2 separate regions of the Homo sapiens genome follow, and region 2 is linked to region 1. Evidence: fine-mapped expression QTL. A gene starts in region 1. The other region holds a variant in brackets. All regions are shown on one strand. Distances are between the middles of the regions.

Evidence for each region.
Region 2: its variant is fine-mapped to the expression of WDR3 in whole blood (INTERVAL, PIP 0.99).

The regions. Positions count from the first base shown.
Region 1 is chr1:117,927,507-117,932,889 of GRCh38, forward strand. WDR3 (WD repeat domain 3) reads left to right here and starts at 2,233. Exons shown (of 27, transcript NM_006784.3): 1 at 2,233-2,276. GDAP2 (ganglioside induced differentiation associated protein 2) reads right to left here and starts at 2,115. Exons shown (of 14, transcript NM_017686.4): 1 at 1,942-2,115. RefSeq lists enhancers at 2,040-2,334, 2,216-2,385.
Region 2 is chr1:117,825,190-117,830,572 of GRCh38, forward strand. No RefSeq gene overlaps it. Among named protein-coding and RNA genes, the nearest start is that of GDAP2, 100 kb to the right of the region's middle. The variant TCTCA/T (reference allele first, on the strand shown) is at 3,324.

The sequences.
Region 1 (5,383 bases):
GTGCATGCACTTGACCGCCATTAATTACCGGGTTTACCATTCTTTATGACTTTGTATTTCAATATTTAACAGTTCAGAGTACATGAGGATATGTGTGCATACCATACTTAAGAATCATTTTATGCCACCATCCAACACCATACTTAAGAATCATTTTATGCCATCAGAAAGACATTTTTTAAAAAAGATTTTCAGATTGGAAGACTAACTGAAGTAGTCAAATATGTCAACAATAAATACAGTATAACAAGAACATTCCTAAGCTTGTCAATGGCTTGGGTCAAATTTAACATCATAATTCAAAAGCACCCAAAGAACATATCCTAACAGTAAATTAGTAGTACCCCTTCATATTAAATGAACTGCACTATGTTTTAATTGTAAATATTGATATATTAGGCATTTTGAAACTTAAATAAGGAAGTAGAGTTACATCCTTGAAACATTGTATAAGGAATTTTGTAAGATGCATTACCTTACCACTCACAGTTGCTCTGATACCAACTCTTATTAAAATCATTTTTTTCCATCTGTGGTTGTCCCATCCCATAATATTTAATAATATTAAGATAGTTTTTTAAGAAAAGGTAAAATCATGACTCATTCAAATATAAAACCAAACCCGTGTTCAAGATTTTATTTAACTCAAAATGGAACCAGGCAGAGAAGATAAAGAAAATCCCAGAATTAGACACCTTAGAGCAGGAATATTGAAATAAATGTGCAAAAGGAGGCAAAACTTCCACTGAATCTCTGAGAGAATTCGCATGTCTTGACAATAATTATTTAGCATTGATGTCACTTACCTAGTTTACGTAACTGAAAAATAGCTTTTTTAGAATTAGTTATTCCAAGGGGTGTTAAGATAGAATCTAAACTATGTAGTTTTCCATTGAAGCACACACTTCTCCCCATAATAATATAATGCACAGCACCTGTCAGGGATATTAACCATACATACCCACTCAAATGCTCCCTTTCCCACCAAGCTTATTAAAATAATAGTTTGTGGCCACAATTTCTTCCCTTCTCATTTATCCAATACACAGCAATCTTGTTTCAAAACTCCTATGCTGCTACAGCTGTCCACAGTCTCATCATACGCATTCTTTGCTATTGCAATTTTCTTGAATATGGAAGATTAGCTGAACATGCATTAAGCTCAGGAAACTCTAAAGAAAATCAGATAATGTAGACAAAAGTCTAATTTCTAGGCTGGCTGCAGATACCTTGTTCAAGAAGCGCCGGCAGGATCTTCTTTTGTACAGCTATGTTAGCTTTAATTTTGCACAGCTCTAGACATCAGAACTCATTTCTAAACACTTCTATGCAGCTCAAGAATAAAAGTAGCAGAAATGCAAGAGAGAAAAGCTAATTCCCACTTGGTGAAAGAGCACTTAAGTCTCAGTGAGCAAACAAGGAGGAGTCAGCCTTGGTCACTTCCCCCTCAAGCGGCCAGAGAGCGGAAACACAAAGCCAGGCCAGTGTCACTCCAGGGATTGCGGGAACCTAGACAACGCACCATCCTGGGCTCAGCGTCTACCCACCCCTCACCCGAGGTGCTCTCGGTTCCGTAGAATGTCCAGTCCACAGGAACGGCAACACGGACTTGTCTTTGGGACTACAACCAGCAAGAGCTCCCGCCTGCCCCATTTCACCTGCACCCTAGGGCGCCCGCCTCCTTGGCTACAGCACCACTGTTCCTAGTGCCCGCCGACTGCCCACCCTTTCACTTCTCGTAGAGACGGCGTCCCCGACAACGCCTCGGGAAAGAACCTAACCAACATGCGAGGAAGTGGCGCCAGGCTCGTTCTTCAAGAGAAGTGACAGAACTAACCCTCAGCCTGCAATCCTGACCAGGGCCGAGTCCCGAGCGCCTCGGACCGCGCCCCCGGCCCTCTCCGCCCCGCCTTCCCTCCCGGCCTCAGTCCCTCCTCTCACAGCACTCTGGTGGTCCCATCCGGGCGGCGGGCGGCACGGATCAGGCTCCTGGTAGAAGGCGGCCGAGCGACATCTCCGGCGACCCTCAGCAGGAGCGCGCCGAGTACGGCGAGTCAAAGTCCCAGGAGACTGGAGTGACCAGCTGCAAATGCTCTGGGCTGCGAAACACCGGCTTCCGCTCCTGGCCAGAGCTCACCAATCAGCGCCCGGCTTTCTCCGTCATTTCCTCCTAGAAGGCAAAGGGAACCTCTGGCGGAAGAGGCTTCCGGAACGGACCCGGAAGGGGCAGGTCTTGTGGGCGGGTCCAATCGGCTGGGAGCCTCGTGGAGGCTGAGGTGAGTCCTGGAGGTGCGTGGTTGGGGCGGAGAGCATTATCTGCGGCTCCGATTTTGCAGATTCTGGCTGAGGCGTTCGTGATGTCAGCAGCAGCCGAGACGGGCGTGTTAAAGGCCGGTTGCTAGGGCTGGGGGAACTCAGGTAACTACGGGCGTCCCCACAGCAGTACTTGGAAGCCCCTCAGCTACTCGGCGCGGTTGCGGGTGCTGAGCAGAGCTGCCTGACCGTGCGTGTGCACGGGCTGGCCTGAGGATGATATGACCGTGTGTTCGGTGTGTGGAACCCTCCGTCACCCTCCCCTGACCGAAGACTCGTTTAGGAATGTGTGGCAGGTCTGTTGCCACGGTCCAGGCCTTCAGTGCATCTTGGAAACATCGTTTTGGGGGCTGTAGGTTAGGAAGCGGAGATCATGGGGTCTCGGAAGAAGGTTTGGTCGTGAACTGTCAGAAAGGAGGCGAAAGCTGTGCACGTGGAACAAAGTGAACAGTGCAAGTTGTATGGGAGGTAGTTTAAATATCGAGGCGATGAAAAAAGGCTGCTAGAATTGGGCTTACTCGAAAGGAAGTGGGCCTCAGAAGATAATATTAGTTAAAAGAAGTAGAGGAGAACATGGATGTTATTCTAAGTAAAACGAATAATATGAAGAATACAAGGTCGCGGGACGAGGAAGGAAACTAGCCAGCCTGACAGGAAGGTTTATTCGAGAAATACGGGGGTTAGATAGGATGAGTTTTTGGAAACTGGCAAACGATTTAGCCTTTTCAAGGCTTTAGGATAGGGAAAGCTCATTTGAAAAGATTAGTCGGTAGTATTATGACGTTTAAATGAAAAGAGTGAAAAACATGGAGGCGGAGGTGCTAGGTGGAAAATCAGTGCAGTAATCCAGTGATAAAGAGCTGGAACTGAAAGTGCTGGAGAGAAAGGGATCCTGTTTCAGAGTAACAGTCAGGTGGAATTGACTAAAGAGAAAGAGGCAAAGAGAAGCAGTTTAGCATAGTGGTTAAAAGCAGAAATTTTGGAGTTAGACTGGCTGGATTGGGATCTGGCTTTGGCAATTAGCTGCTAAATGACTTTGAGTTAGCAATTTGCCATCTCTGGGTCTGAGTTCCTTGTCTGTAAAATAGAGATAGGAAGAGTGACTTCCCTTGTGGTGTTATTGTGGAGAATTTGTTTATTTATTTTTAGAGACAGAGTCTCACTGTCACCCAGGCTGGAGTGCAGTGGCGTGATCATAGCTCACTGCAACCTCGAACTTCTGGACTCAAGTGATCTTTCTGCCTCAGCCTCCCCGAGTGCGTCACCATGCCTGGTTAATTTTTTAAAAAATGTTTTGTAGAGATAGGTTCTTGCTGTGTTGCCTATGTTGGTCTGAAACTCTTGACTCCTAGGCCTTGGCCTCCCAAAGTGCTGGCATTACAGGCATGAGCCACCATACCAGGTCCTTATGGATAATTTTTTTATGCTCATATTTACAATGTGCTAGAGGCTTTTCTAAGTGCTTTGCATATGTTAGCTCGGTTTCATTAATTGCTGTATGTAATTAAACAATTGCATAATGTTATCAGTTACTATAGCGTAAGCACTCTCTAAATCTTGGCTGCTATAATAATATTTTTTTATTAATAATTCAAAGGTTATTAAATGGTTTTGAGCCTGAAGAGCTGGGAAAATTGTGTCTTAGTGTCAGAAGAAAAGAGAGGGGTACCAGAAGTAAGGTAGGCTTGGTTATAGACATGTTAAATGTGAAACTATAAGGTATTCAAGTGGAGATGTTCAGTAAATATTGGAAACTCTATAATTAGTATTCATGTAGGTGGAAAGGACTGGAAATAGACAGATGGGAGTCCCTGGACCTAGGCATGCTATATGAATTCTCCAAGGAAAACACTGTAGAAGGAGGTGGTAGATGGCCAAAGACAGACAAACATAAGGAACAACTACAGAGTCTGGAGGAATAAGAGGAATTGGGAAAGAATTAATCAAATGGCCTAGGCTAAGAGCATTATCACCATGTTAATATTATCTTTCCTTGATTTTAAATTGGCTTTATGTTGGTTCCTGTGAGAGAAGCAATGAGGCCAGTAAGTGATTATTACCAGAAAATATTATCAGAGAGTTGAGATTGAATTTTTTTTGTGTTAGACTAAAACAGCATTTGATAATTAGAAAGACCCTGTAGAGTTAAGCCAACCAACCAAAGAAACAAAAAACAATAGCAAAAAGAAACAGCTCCTCATAAAAGACTGTAACTTCTTTATTTTTGTGTGTTTTAAGTTGCATGGGTGTTTTTTGGGGATACTTTTTACTCTTCCATGTAAAGAACAGATGGGACTGATTTGTTATCTCCTTCATTCACCTCTTGTCCCTTTTATAAATAACCAGTGGATTATGGATTTTCAGTGAATTTAATAAAAGTGCAGAAATTATGGCATCTTTCCAAAAATAGTGTGCCAAGTTGCTCAACCATTTTCTATGCCAAGGGTAAGTGGCTGCTCTGATTTTGAAATGAAGGACAGACTTTCATGTACTAGTAGTTCTCAAAGTGTGGTCCAAGAACTGCAATAGCAGCATCACTTGGAAACTTGTTAGAAATGAAAAATTCTAGGCCCTACCTCAGACTTATGAAATCAGAAACAGGTGCTGGGAGAAGAGATGAGATGGTGTTTTCTAGCAATGTTTTCATAAGCCCTCCAGGTGATTTGGATGTATACTAGAGTTAGAGAACCACTGTACAAGAAGGTAAGTACCATGAGGTTAGGGATTTTGCCTTGTTAATAGTGTATTTCCAGTGTCTAGAATGGTGCCTGTCTAATTGGTAGGTTTTCAATAGATATTCATTGAAAAATATGTTCAGTCTCAGACTGCCAATCTCTGTGTAAAAGCTTTGATGCTGGTTTAATGGGCAGAAGTAAATCAGTTTAGCTGCATTGAGCCTATAATGTCAGATATGCATGAGGTGGGCATGACAACGTGACTAATTTGGAACTTGAGGAATGAGGGATTATATTGAGTCAACACTGAATAAAAAATGATGTCCAGGTATTTTAGGTCAATGATTCATTTAGAGTAAATAAAGATTAAGAAGTCACAAGTTACATGCTTTTAA
Region 2 (5,383 bases), 100 kb before region 1:
CTCTAGTGTTACAGAATGAAACTGTTGTATGCGTGTTAGGTACATGGGGAATTCTCCTGCCACTAAGTGGGAACCTCTGGTAGAGATGCTAGGTATTCAGTCCGCTACTACTTCTCAGTTTTCTCCTCAGAAAGTAAATCAAGAGGGCCATGTTTCCCATAGCCCAGTGGGAAGACAAAAACAGTTTGAAATACACCTAAGATCTAATCCTGGGGCAGCTCTGGGGCCAGGTAGCTCAAGGGTTTGGGTCAAAGCTCACAACCACACAGGGAAGACCTAGTGTTTCTTCCCTACAAAATGATGAGAGATAGAATGGGAAGATGGGGTGCAGGAACAAAATCCCAACTCCATCCAGTCTCCCCAGATGGTCTTGCAACAGGCTTGAAATACCTGGCCTGTTGCCCTGGCCGGTTCCAAACCCCTGAGGCAGGCTCTGTGGGAAGCAGCCTTTGTCCCCTACAACCTTAGGAAAGCTACTTTTCCCATCTGAACTGACCCTCTGAGTATGCTTTCAGCGTTTCCCTTAGTCTGTCCCCAGGACCAGTGATTGCAGAGCATGCTACCTAAGTGTTGGTGCCACAGGGATTCAGCTATTCTCACAGGGAGCCAGCAAAAGCCTCACTGACCAGATGTCTGACTCCAAACTCCTTTTTATCCTGCTCAGATCTGGACAGATGAAGTTTTCAGGTACCCAGTGGCAAAACAGTGGTCTCCCCATGGCTAGTCCCTTCTGTGTGAGATGTTTCCTTTAGGGAAATCATTAAATGATGCTGCCGGGAAAGTAAATTGCCTAAGGTCACCATGAGCCAGGAGTTGGCCCTCAGGTTTGCTGGGTTGGGAACTTAATTCCTTAAGTTCCTCAGAGATAAGAAGGCTATGGGGAGCTGATTCTCTAAGTAAGAGCCTGATTGACAAATGAATACAGACTTATCAATGAGGGTATCAGGTAGGATCATAAGTGCCCAACCTTTTCTGAGAGTGCCCCTGAGGATAAATAATCTTACTTGGGATGCTGAAATATAAAGGAGATTTTCTTGATGTAGACAAAAGCAGAGCAAAGTTTCAAGAGTGTTCTTGTTTATAAGGCTATTTCATCATTCTAGAGTAGCTGGATTCACTGCCTTTCTGCGCTCTGGAGACGTTTCTGAATAAAAAGTACTGGTTCTCAGAATTTGAGGGCTCTCACCCTGGCACAGTGCTTGAGGTCACCCACCAGTTTAGAGAGTATTTATGCAGACCATCTGTGATGCCAGATATAATAGGGCACAATTGGGTAGATGACAACTTCTTTTATAAGCTAGGGCTTTCTAATTTTTTGTAAATAATGCACTCATGCAACAATATGTGTATGAATTGACAGAAGGATTCTAGCCATCCCAGGTCCTGTTCTGCCACCCTGAGATCTACAGGAAGTAAAAATCCCCACACATCTGTGACTCATTGTTGCTCATCAGTTGGCCCTGACAGATCTGTTGGAAAGCTCTGGCACATACCATCATCTTCTTTACTAGATTTTGGAGCATTTAGCAGAGATGATAAATATTTTAGTCTTATGAGCAACACATTTTCTCTTAGGATCAGATTCTTTTGATATCGTGTCTTGGGGTTTTCTGTCTCTACTTTCAGCAGGTGATTTTTTCTGACCCTGCCCCAACCATCCCAAATCTGGAATGCCTTCTGTGGACAATACTTTCATATTGTGTCCAGATCCCCACTTCAGGGCTGAGGCACAAGCCTCCAGCTGCTGATGGCTCACAGCTGTGTCCCTTCCTAGGCAATGACCTTGGCAGAGAACTATCTGGCTCCAGACTAAGGCCCCTCCCAGGCATGGCTCAATAGCCAATGACTGCCTGATGCAGAGATACAATGGTTGGGCCCTTGGCTTTAGTAGGAGACAATTCTGAAGGCTCATCTCAGCTCCAGCACTCCCTGTAGCATTGGTAAGGCCTCAGTTACAACATATGAAGGGTCAATTTCTCCCCCACCTATCCTTGTAAGTGCATCTCTGGAAACATACCCAATAAACCTTCTGCATGCTAGTCTCTGTCACCAAGTCTGCTTTCAGGGAACCCAACCTAAGCCACATTCTCTTTGAGATCTCTTGAGCATTTCAGTGTCATATACTTTCTACACTATAAAATGACCAGATTTATGTAAACACATGGAGTAAATTGTTAAAAGTTAATGGGAAAGTGAACAGCTAAAACTTCTGGGAAAAATATAATTCAAAAGAAAAATCTGAGTCTTCCTTTGGGAAGGGAGGGAGAACCCAGAGACCAAAAGGTGACCTGTCCTCTGTGTCTTCTAGGACAAGTCACCTTCTCTCTCTGTGGCCTTCCTTTCTCCATCCATCATGTGATCAGGTGCATACCTAATTCCTCTACTCAGACTTTCTGTGGCTCCACATTTCTCTGTTTCTCTAATGCAGTGGTTCTCAAACTTGAGTGTATATCAAAACCTCTTTAAAGGCATTTTAAAACACAGATTTCTGTGCCCCACCTTCAGAGTTTATCATTCAGTAGGTCAGGAATGCTGCCCTAGAATTTGTATCTCTAACAGGTGCTAGGAGACGCAGATGGCAGTGCTGTTAGTCTGGGGTCCACACTTTGAAAACCATCGTTCTGGTGGTGTCTAAGAGCTGTTTGTTCTCTCTGATGGAAGAAGGACCATTTCACAAGTTATAATAGCAGTGGTATTATTACTCAGGAACTTTAAACAGTTAATTCAGCTTCTTTATTTGCTTAGGGAGAAACTCTCTGTTAAGAAAAGTTTTCCCAGCCCAGTTGAAACCTAACTATCTAAAGCTAAATCTTATATGAAAAAGAGGTCAGTTTTTCCAGAGGAGGTTGTGAAGATTATAAACCACATAGATTTTGATTAACGGCACACTCTTCAAAGCAGAAGAAAGGAGGGAGGAAAAAAAGTGTCTTTTGGAGAGTGTCTTTCTTGAAGACCCTTGCCACCTGAACATGATCTGGATACTGACAGGGTCTGATATGAGCCTCACTTGTGTGAAAGATCTCAGCCTCCAGCCCCTGGGGACTCTGGGAGCTGTGCTATAGCCTTTAAGGCATGCTCACTGCCAGCAAAAGTCATCCACACAGGGCTGCACTGCTGGAAGCACTTTCCCTTCTCTGGCCCCAGGCCTCACCACCCAGTGTGTTTTTACTGGACATCGCTGAGGTCTGAGAGCCCAGGCGTCAGGGCACTTCCCTCTTAGGAGTGTAGTGTCTGGGATGCTGAGCCCAGGCCTGCCAGTTCCCATGCTCGCCTCCAGGCCATGACGTAGTCCTGCTGGCTGGAGGAAGGCAGGCTTTGCCTGT[TCTCA/T]CTGAGTGTGTGGTTGGATGATGCCCTGGACTGTCCTCTGAAAGCACTTGGACACTGCATGGGATCAAGAAAATCTTTAAATAATTCTTCCCCTTTGTACCAAAGGCAGTTTACCCACCTTTAAAGCATCAGAGGATTTCAGGACTCAGAGGGATCTTGAGAGACCATCCAGTCAAGCTCTTTCTCTTTAATGATCATGAAGCCCTGTTCTTCATAATGATGTTAACATTTCAAGTGTATGAAGTTTACAGAGTACTTTCATATATATCATATTTTTCTTACATGGTCCATTGAATCTGTTAGAAAGCCCTGTTGACTTTTCCTAAAAAATATGCCCTATAGATCTGCCATTTCTCTTCATCCTTTCTGCTATACCCTAGCCACCATAATCTCTTGCCTGGACACAGCGCTGGCCTCCAGACATGTTTCTTCTCTTGTTCCCTGGCTCCCCCACTGTCTTAGTCCACTTAGGCTACTAAAACAAAACACCATATACTGGGTGGCTTATAAATAGCAGAAATTTGTTTCTTACAGTTCTGAAGGCTGGGAAGTCCAAGATTAAGATGCCAGCAGAAACAGTGCCCCATTTCCTGGTTCACAGAGAGCACCTTCTGTCTGTGTCCTTACATGGTGAAAGAACAAGGCAAGCTGGACATGGTGGCTCACACCTGCAATCCCAGCACTTTGGGATGCTGATGTGGGAGGATCACTTGAACCCAGAAGGTCCAGATCAGCCTGGGTAATATGATGACACCTCATCTTTATTAAAAAAGAAATAAAAAATGAGAGAGGAAGGCAGTCCTCTGGAGCCTCTTTTATAAGGGTACAAATTCCATTCATCAGGGTTCCTGACCTAATCACCTCCCAAAGGCTCTCCATCCTAACACCATCACATTGGACGTTAAGATTTTCATATGAACTTTGGGGGGACACAGACATTCAGACCATAGGACCACCCCACTATCCCTTTTCCACATAGCAACCAGAAGGATGTTTTCAAAATATAAATCAGTGGCAGTTGCACAACATTATGAATGCACTAAATGTCACTGAAAATGTTTACGTCAAAATGGTTAATTTTATGTTATGTAAATTTCACTTCAATTTAAGATATCTATGTCTGAAATGGTTTAGTTATTTGTCCTACCTATAGTCTAAATTACATGTTGAAATATAATCTCCAATGTTGGAAGGGGGGCCTAGTGGGAGGTAATTGGATCATGGGGGCAGATCCCTCATGCCTTGGTGCTGTCCTCACAATAGTGAGTACTTGTGAGATTTGATTTTTTAAAAGTGTGTGTCACCTCCTCCCTTCCCCTTGCTTCTGCTTTTGCCATGTAACGTGTGGGTTTCCACTTTGCCTTCTGCCATGAGTAAGAGCTCACTGAAGCCTCCCCAGAAGCTGAGCAGAAACCAGCACCATGCTTCCTATAAAGTGGAACTGTAAGCCAAATGAAACCTCTTTTCTTTATACATTACCCAGTCTCAGGGGTTGGTTGTTTTTCTCTTTTTACGTAGAGTTCATTTTGCCTTGTACCCGTCTCAGGTATTTCTTTTTGTTTGTTTGTTTTGAGATGGAGTCTCACTCTGTCACCCAGGCTGGAGTGCAGTGGCATGATCTCAACTCACTGCAACCTCCACCTTCTGGGTTCAAGTGATTCTCCTGCCTCAGCCTCCTGAATAGCTGGGATTATGGGCATGTGCCACCACACCCAGCTACTTTTTGTATTTTTAGTAGAGATGAGGTTTCACCACGTTGGCCAAACTGGTCTCGAACTCCTGACCTCAGGTGACCGCCTGCCTTGGCCTCCCAAAGTGCTGGGATTTCAGGTGTGAGCCACCATGCCCAGTCACAGGTATTTTTTATAGCAATGTAAGAACAGCCTAACATAGAAAATTTGTACCAGGAGTGGGGTCTTGCTATAAAGATAACTGATAATATGGAAGCACCTTTGGAACTGGGCAATGGGCAGAGGTTGGAAGAGTGTGGACGCTCAAAAGAAGACAGGAAGATGAGGGAAAGTTTGGAACATCTTTGAGACTGGTTAAATGGTTG